Homo sapiens: one gene and its partner. The protein of the gene in region 2 binds, or shares a complex with, the protein of the main gene of each other region. Each region holds a gene or a part of one and is shown on either strand. Other genes may lie near its edges. The genes, in order: MCM2 and CDC45.

Region 1 (3,818 bases), on a different chromosome or scaffold from region 2:
TTAGTTGGCTCTTCCCAAGAGTCACAGAACTTTGGAGTTTAGAAGAACCTTCATCTGAACCCCTAATCTTGACATATTTCAGAAAGGCCTTTCCCAAGATCACAGACCAAGAGCAGAAATAAGACCAGAACCAGGTCTGTCATGGCACTGGCCTACCTCAAGCCTCAGTTTCTTCATATGGAAAAGAGAGATGGCAACATCCAACTCACAGAAGGGTGGGTACAAATGCGACAGTTCATGCAAGTGCCTGCCTCGTCAATGCAATAAATGTGGCACATCTGGGAGATGTGTCCACCAGGAAGTAATTCCAACTAGTGAGTCACTGGAACATTTCTATTTCAGTGTGTGTGTGAGAGAAAGAAAGAGACAGGGAGAGAGCAAAATCTTCATGAATTTTAGATAGAATTAGAGACATCAAAGACATTTCTTGCTTGTAGGAGACTGCTTCCAACTCCACCTGCAGCAGAGCCATGTTTTGATAGCTTTCAGCCTTCATACCCCCCTGCACTGGCCACACCCACATCCTTCCCTCCTTGTAGGACAGACAAAGAAGCTCAGAAAGCACTGGCCCTCGCCTGGGGAGAGGGGACTAAGGCAGGAAAACCAGCCCTGAAGGTGGAGGGGAGACACCCCCATCAGGCTGCATCCTGTATGTCCTGCCTGCACCATCAAATTCATGCAGCTTTAGAGGTGTCTCTAACTCCTATCTCCCTCTGAAAGCAAGTAACACTTCCCACGGGGCTTCTTGGAGAAATGTCCAATTCCAGGTCCGGGGCTGGAAATGTACAAGAGAAGCCTGCAATATCTTCTACCAGAAAGCAAAAAATCACTCAAAGACAACCAGGGTCATGTCAACAGAACTCAGGAGCCAACATGAATAGGTTCACGCTGGCAAAAAAGGGACACTTGAGCATTGTAGGGATGACACCTGCAGCGTGGAAACCTCAACACCCGGCGGGCCTATTTGTCTGTTATGATACCCAGGTCACCTGGGAACCAATTCATTATTTTTAAAACTAGTAAGTCAAAGAAAATAAGCAGGCATTTACCTGACTAGGCTTCAGTGCCTGACTGCCAAATTACAGAAAACACAGGTGACAGAGGTGTGTGTCTAATGGGGACATAATTAGCAATATCTCGACTGCAAGGCTCAACAGAACAAATGACCCAGTTTCTTCCACAAAAAATTACAAGGAAAAAAGAGATGGAGAAAAGATCTAAAGATTATGAGACTTAAGAGATATCAACCAATCACAACTTATGGATCTTATTTGGATAATGACTCCAAGAAGCTGTAAAAAACAGGGGGAAGGGGTAAGATAATCAGGGAAATGTGAACAACAACAGAATATTGGATATTAAGGAATTGTTAATCACCTCTTAAAGTGAGATAATGGTATTGTGGCTAGGTTTATTCAAAGAGAGTCTTTTCTTTTTCATATACATACTGATGTAGTTACAGAAAAAAACGGCATGCCTGGAATTTGCCTTGAAATATACCAAGGGTGAATGGGTGGTGTATTAAGAACACTCGATTGGCTGTGACTATGACAGCTGTGGAAGCTGGGTAGAGTGCTACAGTTTGAATGTACCCCCCAGAAAGCATGTGTTGGCATCTTAATCCCCCATTTAACAGTATTAAAAGGTGGGACCTTTAAGGGGTGATCAGGCCATGAGGGATCTGCTCTCATGAATGGAGGATAAAAGCACTGCTATCCAGGGAGTAGGTCCTTGTAAAAGGATGAGTCTGGCCCCCTCTGGGCTCTCACTCTGTCTCTTTAACTCTCACCTTTTTGCCATGGGATGACATGGCAAGAAGGCCCTCACCAGATGCCAGCCCTCAATTTTGGACTTCCAGCCTCCAAAACCATAAGTCAATAAATTTCTGTTCATTATAAATTACCCAGTCTATGGTATTCTGTTGTAGCAGCAGAAAATGGACTAAGACAAATGGTCAAAGTTCACTACACCATTCTACATACCTGTTTGAAATTTTCTGTAACAATGTTTTAAAATGTGGGCCAGGCCTTATGTAACACAGAGTGCCCATGGAACTCACAATAACCAAATAAACTCACCAACTGTTGGCACAATACAGTCACTGGGAGCATGGACTCAAGCCAGGCTGCTGACTCTGCCACTTGCTATGTGACTATGGCCAACTTATCTAACCTTTTGTGCCTTAGTTTATTCATCAGTAAAACAGGCAGAGATGAAACCTCACAGGAACATTGCTATCTAGAAATTACCTAGACAATGCCAAGCAGATACTAAGTCCTCAGTAAGTATAATGACTCTCTTATGAAACTCTTACTTTGTGCTGCAGATGCTGGGCAGACCACTCCACGGACCTCTCATGCCCCAACACACCTCGTGCTGGATGTGCCAAGACTGCCAATCCTTGACTCCTCTTAACCCAGCTCATTTCCCCGTATAATTTTTGTAGCGAGCAACCTTGCAGGATGAGGTAATGTCTCCCTCCAGGGCCAAGAGCTTCCTGCTTGCTATGCAGGGCAGATTGCCCAACTCAATCCCCCTCCTGTAAAGCAACCACTGCATCCAGGGGGACTTCCCTGTGGGACTGGAGGGCAAGCAGCGCAAATGTGTGAATGCCTACACTGCCTGCTGTGCCTTCCACCGCTGACCCAGTTACTCCAGGAGAGAGTAGCAGGCTAATTTAATGGCTGGAAAGTGGGGCAGAATCAAATCCCAGACCTGCCAGGGAATAACAGCGCTTTCCATGAATTACCTCATGTAATCCTCATAATAACCTTGTTTCTCTCGATCCTACAGAGGAAACCAAGGCTCAGGTCAAAATATTTTCTCCTAGAGGAGAGGCAAGACTCGACCCCAGATGCATCTGAATCCAAAGCTCATGCTCCTCCTGGCTCTAGGTGTGCTGCTTCCTAGCACTCCTCAGTCTCCGCACCCAGCAAACAGGGATAGAGTGCCCACCTGAGTGGGTACTGTGAGCTCCACCCAGCAAACGGAGAAAAAGCACCCACCTGCATGGGTACCATGAGCCTGAGATAATGTGTGTAAAATGCCTAAAGCATCAGGCTCAAAGCTATTTTTGTCCTACCTACTGGCTGCTTATGCTTTCTACACGCCTGTCACAGGCTCTTCCATCCAGTTTTTGTACAAATAGTTTAACTTTGGTAGCCATGTACAGTAACAGCCAGATACTGAGCACTCGCCAACAGCCAAGTACTTTATATGCACTAATTTATTTGATCTTTATAACAACTCTATGAGTGTTTACTCTCATCCTCTCATTTCTATAGATAAGGGTGACTCATCTGACCATCCTAAGGATTAGGCCAAAATTCAAACCTAAAAAGTCTGGCTTCAGACTGCATGCTGCTTCTGTTAGTTCTTTAAAATCTCTAAGTGTTGGGCATGACCCTGATCTCTTTAATACTTTACCAGATCAGTGTCCAGGGCCCACGGAAGGCAGGCAGGGCCATGAAACTGACAGAGTAGGGGACGGGGTAAACCTGGGGACACAGGCCCTACCTGCAAGGGCAGCTATGCCTCAGCTCCGTCAGCGTTACCAGAGAGGAACACAGAGCCAGCACCCACAGATCTTGGATTTTCAAAAAGCATCCGGATTTCTATGTGAAGTCTCCGGATCCCTCAAGGATGATAACTAACTCAAAATAAAAACAAATACAAAAAGTCAGCTGTTGGCCGGGCGCGGTGGCTCACGCCTGTAATCCCAGCACTTTGGGAGGCCGAGGCGGGCGGATCACGAGGTCAGGAGATCGAGACCATCCCGGCTAAAACGGTGAAACCCCGTCTCTACTAAAAATACAAAA
Region 2 (3,818 bases):
ACCCTGTGGGACTGGGAACAGCCTGAACACAAGAACTTGGTCTTTGTCATCTTTTTTTTTTTTTTTTAAGGAGAGTCTGGAGTACACTGGCACAATCATGGCTCACTGCAGCCTCAAACTCCTGGGTTCAACTGACCCTTCCTGCCTCAGCCTCCTTAGTAGGTGGGACTACAGGCACATGCCACCACGCCCAGCAAATATTTGTTTTTATTTTTGTTGAAATGGAGTCTTGGCTGGGCGCGGTGGCTCACGCCTGTAATCCCAGCACTTTGGGAGGCCGAGGCAGGCGGATTACGAGGTCAGAAGATTGAGACCATCCTGGCTAACATGGTGAAACCCCGTCTCTACTAAAAATACAAAAAATTAGCCAGGCATAGTGTTGGACGCTTGTAGTCCCAGCTACTCAGGAGGCTGAGGCAGGAGAATGGCATGAACCCAGGAGGCAGAGCTTGCAGTGAGCCGAGATCGTGCCACTGCACTCCAGCTTGGGCGACAGAGCGAGACTCCGTCTCCAAAAAAAAAAGAAAAGAAAAATCAGCCTGGAGTTGCTTTCAGACAGGAGTTTTAGTCACCACTTAGGGGTTACACATCTTCATGTCCTATATCAGACAGAGGCCAAGTTGTGGGGCGTTCATTTTATTGGTGTATGACGTAAGAGGATGCTGTGTTTCCAGACTTAAGTAGACTAGATGGTTCTCAAAGAACTGTTTTCAGATTTTCATAATTTCTGCATACCACGTATGGTGTAACTCTGGTGCCTCACTGGTAATGAAAACAAGAAAATTCCTTAGAAGCCTGGAACTCTTGTTAAATAGGTAGCTATTTGTATGAACAGGAAACTGAGTCAGCTTATTAGGAAATGATAAGATTCTGCAGAAGAACATATTGTATAGTTTTCCGTAGAAAGAGGAGAGGCTTAATTCCTTTTTGTTTTGAACTTAGATCAAATTACTCATTAAACAAGATGATGACCTTGAAGTTCCCGCCTATGAAGACATCTTCAGGGATGAAGAGGAGGATGAAGAGCATTCAGGAAATGACAGTGATGGGTCAGAGCCTTCTGAGAAGCGCACACGGTTAGAAGAGGTGAGTTTGGGTCTCTCACAGCTATCCCAGAGGAACTTGCACTCCCAGAGGTCGGAGGTCATCCTGAAGCCTGCCAGGCCAAGGTGTACTGAGGGCAGTGGGAAGTGGAAAAGTTAGCAGGCATGGATGCTGACCCTGGGCTCTGCTGTCCCCTGGTTATGTGGCCTCAGGCAGGTTACTGGACTTCCCTAAATAGTGGCTTATCTGTCCAATAGGATCCTGTCAGAAGAAATGAAATTTAGGACAGCTCAGCTCTGCGGCTAGATAGCAAAAAAATAATGTAGAGAAGCAATAAATAGTGTAACCCCCACCCCTTCCTTTTCTACTGTCTTCTAGCATCACTTACTATGCAGTCACTGCAGAGGAGCAATGTGGGTCTGCATCCCTTGGCCAGGCCCAGTCCCAGACAATTACTGCAGGGGAGGTATCTTGTATGTGAAGATACCAGTGGTTTTCACCATGTGGACCTTGGGTCTGAGCTGCTTAGTGATCTGGGGCTGGGCCCAGTGGCCTACCCAACACTACGGCTTCTGCAAGATGTAAAATGACAGGCAGAAGGTGGTTGTTCCCATAGCACGGAGGGCCACGTGATGCTTTTGAAGATGGCCTCTGGCTCCTGATCTTGGTGTGTGACCTAGAATTTGCCCCCGTAATGTTCTAGGGTCTTCCCTTCATCCTCAGCCTGACATTTCCCGGTAATGTGCTTTTGGGAAGCCTTTTTGAGCCATATTTGAGATGTTCAAGACATTCTTCATTTGGGGAAGGGGCAATGCCCTTCAAACTGAGGCATGCTTCTCTCTTCTTTCTCACCTTTGTCACCCCTTTCACTAGGTTTGGGTGTCTCATAGGGAACCTCTTGGACCCACTGTTATATTTTCTTACCTCTTGCCCAGCTCTTTGTTCTATTTTTTGGAAGACTTTTTGTTTTTTGTTTTTTTTTTGTTTTTTCCCCAGACGGGGTCTCTCTCTGTTTCCCAGGCTGGCCTCAAACTTCGGGCTCACTCGATCTTCCCACTTCAGCCTCCCAAGTAGCTGAGACTAAGCACATGCCACTACACTCAGCTTGGTCTTTATCTTCTAATCTTTGGTTTGTGAGGGGTCCTTTTTGTTCTCTGAATTTTTTTTTATATAGCATTCTTTTAACTATCGATGAGCTGCATTTCATTGGTTCCCAAATGTCAGTATCCAATGGGATTTCCCGGGAAACATTCATGTTCTACAGATAAGTCTTGGAATTTTCCACTCTGACTAATAAACAAATATTTTTTAAGCACTTACTATGTGCCAGGTACCAGTTAGGCCCTGGGGTGCGGGTATGAGAGCAAAGTCCTGCCTTTGCAAAGCTTTCCATTGGGGGAGACAGATACTGATCATGTAAATGAGCACAATTAGGGAAAGCTTTCAGGTATCAAACATGAGTTAGCAGGGGATGGAGCCAAGAGGATTCCTGGGCAGAGCATCCATAGACACTGCAGCTCTGAGGTGGGAAGGAAAGTTTCAAGGAAGGCTTGGCCAGCAGTGCCAAAGGAACAGGCAAATGAGAACAGACCAGTGGGTTTGGCAATAAAGAGAAGGTAGGTTGTCTTGATGAGATACAGGAAAATAATCAGCGTTTCCTTTTACATACTTAACACATCAATTTGGAATTTGTGTTTGTAAATGTTTAACATAATATTCATGGATTATAATAGGCATAATTTCCCACCAACTTTTTATTTTGAAATTTTTTGAAATGTATACAGTGGTTGAAAGGATAGTACAGTGAATATCCATGTACCTTCAATCTAGAGTCAACAGTGGATCATGACTGTAGGTGGTCTCAGCTACTTGGGAGGCCAAGGCAGGAGGATTGATGAAGCCCAGGAATTTGAGAACAGCCTGGGCAACATGAAGAGAACCTGTCTCAAAAAAAACAAAAACAGTTTTTCACATTTGCCACATTTGCTTTCTTTCTGTGTATTCTTTTTTCTGTATTATTTGAGAATAGATTGCAGAAACTGATATTCTTTTTTATTTTTTATTTTGTTTTTTCTTGAGATGGAGTCTCACTCTGTCACTGAGGCTGGGGTGCAGTGGCACGATCTCGGCTCCCTTCAACCTCTGTCTTCTGGGTTCAAGCGATTCGCCTGCCTCAGCCTCCCAAGTAGCTAGGATTACAGGCATGCACTGCCACAGCCAGCCAGAAACCATGATATTCTACACATTCTTTCATAAGCAGCTCCTAAGAATAAGGACATTCTTCCCCATAAACACAATGCCATTGTCATACATAAGAAATTAATAATATCCTAATATCATGTAATATTCAGCCCATATTCAGGTCTCTTTAATTGTCCTCAAAATATATTTTGCAGCTATTTTTATTTCTGAACTATTCTCCAATCAAGATTAAGACATTTAGCTATTCCTCTTTACTGTCTTAACCTAGAACCATACCTTACCTCTTTTTTTTCTTTTGTTTTTAATGACATTGAAGGCCAGTTCTCTTTTCTAATATTTACTACTACTTGTTTCTTCATGGAGTACTTTAACTTGCTTCTCTATCCCTGCATTTTCTATGATCTGTAAATTAGGTCTAGAGCGTTGATTTTAATAACATTAAGCATTCTTGAGAAGAATACTTTTTATATAATTAAAACCTGTGCATGATTTATAACTAAGTATGTGTATATTAGAGGTATATATATATTTTTTTGAGACGGAGTCTCGCTCTGTCGCCCAGGCTGGAGTGC

Evidence for each region.
Region 1: CDC45 (region 2) and MCM2 share a complex: the UniProt entries of both Homo sapiens proteins name them as parts of the CMG helicase complex.

What each region holds. Positions count from the first base shown.
Region 1 is NC_000003.12:127,611,869-127,615,686, reverse strand, and holds part of MCM2 (DNA replication licensing factor MCM2), read right to left. Parts: intron 1-3,818. UniProt on the Homo sapiens protein: Acts as a component of the MCM2-7 complex (MCM complex) which is the replicative helicase essential for 'once per cell cycle' DNA replication initiation and elongation in eukaryotic cells.
Region 2 is NC_000022.11:19,482,920-19,486,737, forward strand, and holds part of CDC45 (cell division control protein 45 homolog), read left to right. Parts: intron 1-942; coding exon 943-1,086; intron 1,087-3,818. UniProt on the Homo sapiens protein: Required for initiation of chromosomal DNA replication. Core component of CDC45-MCM-GINS (CMG) helicase, the molecular machine that unwinds template DNA during replication, and around which the replisome is built.